2 linked regions of the Homo sapiens genome follow. Each later gene encodes a partner of the first gene's protein in a complex. Each region holds a gene or a part of one and is shown on either strand. Other genes may lie near its edges.

Evidence for each region.
Region 2: EIF3CL (region 1) and EIF3D share a complex: the UniProt entries of both Homo sapiens proteins name them as parts of the eukaryotic translation initiation factor 3 (eIF-3) complex.

The regions. Positions count from the first base shown.
Region 1 is NC_000016.10:28,393,793-28,397,373, forward strand, and holds part of EIF3CL (eukaryotic translation initiation factor 3 subunit C-like protein), read right to left. Parts: intron 500-3,581; exon of another isoform or gene 482-499; intron 1-481. UniProt on the Homo sapiens protein: Component of the eukaryotic translation initiation factor 3 (eIF-3) complex, which is required for several steps in the initiation of protein synthesis.
Region 2 is NC_000022.11:36,512,136-36,515,716, forward strand, and holds part of EIF3D (eukaryotic translation initiation factor 3 subunit D), read right to left. Parts: intron 468-3,581; coding exon 325-467; intron 1-324. UniProt on the Homo sapiens protein: mRNA cap-binding component of the eukaryotic translation initiation factor 3 (eIF-3) complex, a complex required for several steps in the initiation of protein synthesis of a specialized repertoire of mRNAs.

The DNA.
Region 1 (3,581 bases):
ATCAACAGATAAAAGCAACATTTCTAAACGAGTATTACCTCTACTTAATACATAGTTAAGAGACTAAAAACTCATTATTGAGAGACACCAACGGAAGTCAGGCCTAACTACACTGCAGAGGACCACACCATTTTCCCATGCCTTCCCAACCACAACTACTGATGGAAAGCCCTAGATGTATACCCTTGCTTAGGATCCTAACTCGGACATTCAGTCTCACTAGAGATCCTGGGGTTCACTTAAAAAACAAAAACAAAAACAAAAAAACGCCTCCAGAATCAGGTAACTCTTAGAAGTAGACAGCAGCTCTGTAAGAGTTCACAGGTCGCTGGGCGCAGTGGCTCACGCCTGTAATCCCAGCACTTTGGGAAGCCGAGGCAGGCAATCAAGAGATAAGGAGATCGAGACCATCCTGGCTAACACGGCGAAACCCCGTCTCTACTAAAAATACAAAAAATTAGCCAGGCGTGGTGGCACGTGCCTGTAATCCCAGCTACTTGGGAGGCTGAGGAGAACTGCTTGAACCAGGGAGGCGGAGGTTGCAGTGAGATGAGATTGCACCACTGCACTCCAGCCTGGGCAACAGAGCAAGACTCCATCTAAAAAAAGAAAAAAAGAAAAAGAGTTCACAGGTCAATCATGACATCAGGTATAGATGAACTTCCCCCTAATACCTTCAGATCACCATAAGACAACAGATGGCCTTATCCCACATCAAAGAGGCTGAAGCTCATGAGAATAAACCCACTCCTTTACAAGCTTGTTTTGACCAAAAGATGAAGGCTGAGAAATGCTGATGATGGAAAGGGTATATTTAGACTGGCTGAATCTGGAGTTGCTGAAAACCCTTACTGGCAGAGGGCCTATCGTGTTTTCTAGAGCATCCACCAACCCTGGGTGGCATACTCAAGGAGAGTTAATATCAGAGTTTACACAGAAAAACGGGCAAACAGAATCCACTGTTCTGTGGTTTTGCCCTCTCTCCTTGTTCCTCTTTCTCCTATATAAATCCTGCTTTTGCTCGGTTGGAAATTAATCTGAAAATCTGTCTCCCTTGTTACACAAGTGAAATAGTGTCTGTGAATTATTCTTCTACACTACAAAGCCACAAACTCTCAATGTCAAAAAGATTCTGACACTTGAAATTCTAACTTTATTTTCTCAAGGGTTTTCCTCAGAACATTGATTCAACTAATTTTAGACTATTCTGATTAGGTATACAAGTTAGTTTACAGGTTAACAAAAAAAAATTTGGCTGGGTGCGGTGGTTCACGCCTGTAATTCCAGCACTTTGGGAGGCTGAGGTGGGCAGATCACGAGGTCAGGAGATCGAGACCATCCTGGCTAACACAGTGAAACCCCGTCTCTACTAAAAATACAAAAAAATTTAGCTGGGCATGGTGGCAGGTGCCTGTAGTCCCAGCTACTCAGGAGGCTGAGGCAGGAGAATGGCGTGAACCCGGGAGGCGGAGCTTGCAGTGAGCCGAGATTGCGCCACTCACTGCATTCTAGCCTCGGCAACAGGCTAGTGTCTCAAAAAAAAAAAAAAAAAAATTCAAGAATAACCTCTAAAAGCATAGCACGTCTAACTCCCAAACCAGCAGAAAAAAACAAAATGAATAATAAGAAAATATATATAACTAGAAACGGGGAAAAAAAAAAGAGGATGAGAAAATACATGTAGGCTAGGTGTGGTGGCTCATGCCTGTAATCCCAGTACTCTGGGAGGCTGAGGCGAGCGAATCATCTAAGGTCAGGAGTTCAAGACCAGCCTGGCCAACATGCTGAAACCTCATCTCTACTAAAAATATAAAAATTAGCTGGGCGTGGTGGTGCTCACGTGTAGTCCCAGCTACCCAGGAGGCTGAGGCCTGAGAATCACTTGAACCCAGGAGGCAGAGGTTGCAGTGGGCCAGGATTGCACCGCTGCATTCCAGCCGGGGCAACACAGTGAGACTCCTTCTCAAAAACAAAAACAAAAAACACACAAATAAAAGAAAAATAAAATACAGGCTGAATATCCCTTATCTGAAATGCTTAGAACCAGAAGTGTTTCAAATTTCAAATAATTGCATATATATAATGGGGTATCTTGGGAAGGGCTCCAAGTCTAACTATGAAATTTGTGTGTTTCATCTACACCTTATACAAACAGCCTGATGGCAATTTTACATAGTATTTTAAATAATTTTGTGCATGAAACAAAGTTTTGACTGCAACCTGTCACATGAGGTCAGATGTGGAATTGTCCACTTATGGTGCTCCAGAAGTTTCAGACTTTGGAATTAGAGATGCCCAATCTTTAGAAGACAGAATGAATTTCAAAATAATTATGATTAAAGAAACTACCCCCTCCAAATTATATACCGTTGATTCCATTTACATAAAATTCTAGAAAATGCTAACTTACCTAGTGACAGAAAGCAAATTAGTGGTTGCCCAGGGATAGGGTGAGGAAACTGAGGCAGGGAGAAGTATTACAAAGGGGAAGGTGGAAATGTTTAGGTGTGAAATTTTTAGGATATTATGTTTTGATTGTGGTGAGTTCTATGGGTGTAAACATATGTCACAACTTATTAAATTTAACTTTAAGGCTGGGTGCGGTGGCTCATGCCTGTAATCCCAGCACTTAGTGGAAGGCCGAGGCGGGTGGATCACGAGGTCAGGAGATCGAGACCATCCTGGCTAACATGGTGAAACCCTGTCTCTACTAAAAGTACAAAAAATTAGCCAGGCGTGGTGGCGGGTGGCTGTAGTCCCAGCTACTCAGGAGGCTGAGGCAGGAGAATGGTGTGAACCCGGGAGGTGGAGCTTGCAGTGAGCCGAGATTGCACCACTGCACTCCAGCCTGGGCGACAGTGCAAGACTCTGTCTCAAAAAAAAAAAAAAAAAAAAAAACTTTAAACAAGTGCAGTTATTGTATGTCATGTACACCTCAATAAAGCTATTACAAAATTTAAAATAAAGAGGATAAACAGAAAGTATAAGATACCATAAAATGGTAAGAATAAATGCATTGATAACCACAATAGGCTGGGCGCAGTGGCTCACGCCTGTAATCCCAGCACTTTAGGAGGCCCAGGCAGAAGGGTTACTCGAGCCCAGGAGTTCGAGACCATCCTGGGCAACAGGGCAAGACCCCATCTTGATAAAAACTAATTATGTAGACACATATATAAATAACCATCATATATATGTAAATAACTATAATAAACGTAAATGAACTAAATTGCCAGAGAAGCAGAGATCAAGTTCTGGCGGTCATTGCACAATGTGAACGTACTAAATGCCACTGATTTGTATACCTGAAAATGGTTAAAATGGGAAATGTTATGTATCACAATAAAAGAAAAAAAAAGCAGAGATTTTATGAGATTAAAAAAAAAACAAACCAAAAACCTAGCTGTGCTTAAGAGACACTCTTTTTTTTTTTTTTTTTTTTTTTTCCTGAGACGGAGTCTTGCTCTGTTGCCCAAAGCTGAAGTGCAATGGCGCGATCTCGGCACACTGCAACCTCCGCCTCCCGGGTTCAAGCAATTCTCCTGCCTTAGCCTCATGAGTAGCTGGGACTACAGGCGCAG
Region 2 (3,581 bases), on another chromosome or scaffold:
AGCCTGGGCCTCCCAAAGTGCTAGGATTACAGGCATGAGCCACCGCGCCCGGCAGTCCACTGCTATTTTCAAGGGAAAGGGAAAACATCGTCTTCTGAGTTCTCAGTTCTGGATTTCATTGACACCATTGCCCTAGTTCAGGACTCCATTCAGCATGCCTGCTGTTTGGCATTTGTCTCCTAACTGACCCCTCCATCTCTACCCCACCCCTGGATTTATCTCTGCCAGTCAATTGTCCAGTACACGGGGAGGGGAGGGTCAACCTCCCTACCCAGACCCTTCCTTTCACAAGATCAGCTGCCAGCTCCTGCACAGGAATCTCACCCAAGCTTGAGGTACTCAGATCCAGCCAGCAAAGCACAGCAGGTCCACCGGGCCAACTTGTAGCTGTTGTTCTTCAGCTCCGTGGCAATGACAGCCCCTCGCTGAGAGTCCAGCTTCTGACGCCAGTCAACGCCATTACAGTGCTGCAGGAGAGCCCCGTTAGAGAAACAGAAGCAAGCTCCAAATGCCCAAGGTGCTGGGACCTCCTCTGGCAGAGAAGGAACTCCCTAGTCTGCTTGCTTAGAAAGTGGGTAGGTACGCACTAAATCTTACCATTTAAGAGACAAAGACATAGTCCCTTCCCTTGCACAGCCTGCCGCACAGCAGTCACTCAACGACTTACAATTCCTCTCTTCTAAAAGCTCGCCTAGACAGGGAATGATGGATGGACACACACGGACACACACACACACACACACACTTTAGAAGTGTCATATAAACAGCAGAGCCAAGTGTTTACTATGTGTTGCGTGGTAAGGAAGGGCTTCACAGAGGACGTGTAACAGTGAGCCAAGTGGAGAATATTGGCTCAAGTGCAGGTGTAGCCAGGAGGTCTTGATCTGAGAGGCATGGTGGGATAGGAAAGACAGGCAGAGTTGGCCTTAGATGGGGGTGGAAGCCTGCAGTGGGTGCAAAGCTGAGTCTGACATTTTACATAAATGCACACACAGTAGAAAAGGACCCCAGAGAGATCCTCTTTTCTACCCATATCATTTGTAGACGTGGGAAGTTGGACCCAGAGTGAAATGACTGGTCAAAGGTCACATGACAGAGGTTCCCAAACTTTCTTGGTTCATGGCAAACACAGGGCAAAAGAAATACTCAAGAATTTCTTTTAAATTTTTTTTCTTTTTTTTTTTGAGACGGAGTTTTGCTCTTGTTGCCCAGGGTGGAGTGCAGTGGCACGATCTTGGCTCACTGCAACCTCCGCCTCCCGGGTTCAAGTGATTCTCCTACCTCAGCCTCCCTAGTAGTTGGGATTACAGGTGCCCGCCACCATGTCCAGCCAATTTTTGTATTTTTGGTAGATACGGGGTTTCATCATGTTGGCCAGGCTGGTCTCGAACTCCTGACCTCAGGTGATCCACTCGCCCCGGCCTCCCAAAGTGCTGGGATTACAGGCGTGAGCCACCGTGCCCGGCCAAGAATTCCTTTTATTTAGTTAGGGTCAAACCATGTATTAGTATTCTGACAAGATGTCTCTGTGTTTCCCTAAAAAATTTAAAATATCCTGCAGCACTCCTGTGAGTTTGCTGTGGCACATTTTTTGGAGATGGGGTCTCACTATGTTGCCCAAGCTGGTGAGTTCAGGATTTGAACTCATGAACCCAAGCGATTCTCCCACCTCAGGCTCCTGAGTAGCTAGGACTATAGGTGCATACTACTGCATACAGCTTGCTGGGGCATGTTAGAATTCTTCTCCCAATCTGCACTGCTGATGAAGCGTGTATTGGACAATTGACTGGCGGAGATAAATCAAATATAGAAGTTGGGTGGAGGTAGAGAAATCAGTTAGGAGACAAATGTCAAACAGGCATGATGAAATGGGGCCCTGAACTAGGGCAATTATCAGTGAAATCCAGGACAGATTCAGAAGACAGCAAAGCCTTCTATTTTGCTAACAGCAAAACAGAATAATGTAAAAAAGAAGTTGGAGATGTTGGAGGCTCAGAGCTTAGGTGGAAGAAAGACAATGCTGATGGACAGCTGGCCCAGAGGCAATGACGGGACTGGGGACACATGGAAGGGGAAGGTGTTTTAGCAGAAAAACAATGGGAAGTATAATAAATCAGAGTAGATTTGAGAAATCATTTTCAAAGAGTTCATGGTTGAGGCCTGGGATGGGCAGAATTCTAAGATGACCCCCAGTGACCCTTGCCCTTGCAGAGTCTCCTCCCCTTGACTACGGGCAGAACCTATGGCTAGGATCAAGTATCACCCCCATGATCATCCTACCTTGTATGTCAAAAGGGATTTTGCAGATGTAAGGCCGCAAATCAGTTTACCTTAATATACACTACCTGGCTGGGCTCACCCAACCGTATGAGTCTCTTAAATCTAGGTGTAGAGGTCGGAGACGGAGGAAGTCAGAGATCTGAAGCACAAGAAGGATCTGATGTGCTGTTGCTATCTTGGAGATGGAGGGGGCCATGTGACAAGGAATGCAGGTGGCCTCTAGGAGCCAAGAGAGGCTCCCAGCTGACAACTGGCAGGGGGATGGGGGCCTCAGTCATCTAACTGCAGGGAAATGAACTTTACCCACAATAAGAATGGGCTTGGAAGTGGCTTTTCTTTCAGAACCTCCAGATGAGAACTCAGTTCTATTTCTATTGACACCATGATTTCTGCCTTGTTTGGATTTGTGGCCCCACCCAAACTGCATGTCAAATTGTAAACTCCAATGTTGGAGGAGGAGCATGGTGGGAGGTGACTGGATCATGGGGGCAGACTTCCCCCTTTGGCACTATTCTTGTGGTAAGAGTATTCAAGAGATCTGGTTGTTTAAAAGTGTATACCAACCTCCCCCCTCTCTTTCTCCTGCTCTGGCCATGATGTGCCTGCTTCTCCTTTGCTTTCTGCCACCATTGCAAGTTTCCTGAGGTCTCCTCAGCCACGCTTCCTCTAGAGCCTGCAGAACTGTGAGCCAATTAAACCTCTTTTCTTTATAAATCACCCACTCTCAGGCATTTCTTTACAGCAGTGTGACAATGGACTAATACAAGGACCAAGCACACAGCACTGGACTTCTAACCTACAAAACCGTGAGCTAATAAATTGGTATTGTTAGGCCGGGTGCTGTGGCTCACGCCTGTAATCCCAGCACTTTGGGAGGCCGAGGCAGGCAGATCACCTGAGGCCGGGACTTCAAGACCAGTCTGACCAACATGGAGAAACCCCATCTCTACTAAAAATACAAAATTAGCTGGGTGTGGTGGTGCATGCCTATAATCCTAGCTACTCGGGAGGCTGAGGCAGGAGAATCGCTTGAGCCCGGGAGGTAGAGGTTGCAGTGAGCCGAGATCGCACCGTTGCACTCCAGCCTGGGCAACAAGAGCGAAACTCCGTTTCAGAAAAATAAAATAAAAAATAAAAGTAAAATACATAAATCGGTATTAAGTCATTAAGTTTCTGTTAATTTGTTATGGTGCGAAAGAAAACTAATACAAAGTTATATAATACAGAAGTATGTATGGCGAAGAGAGCTGTCCAGGTGACTCCACTGGGATCAAAAAGGAGGGGAGCCAGCAAAGACGACA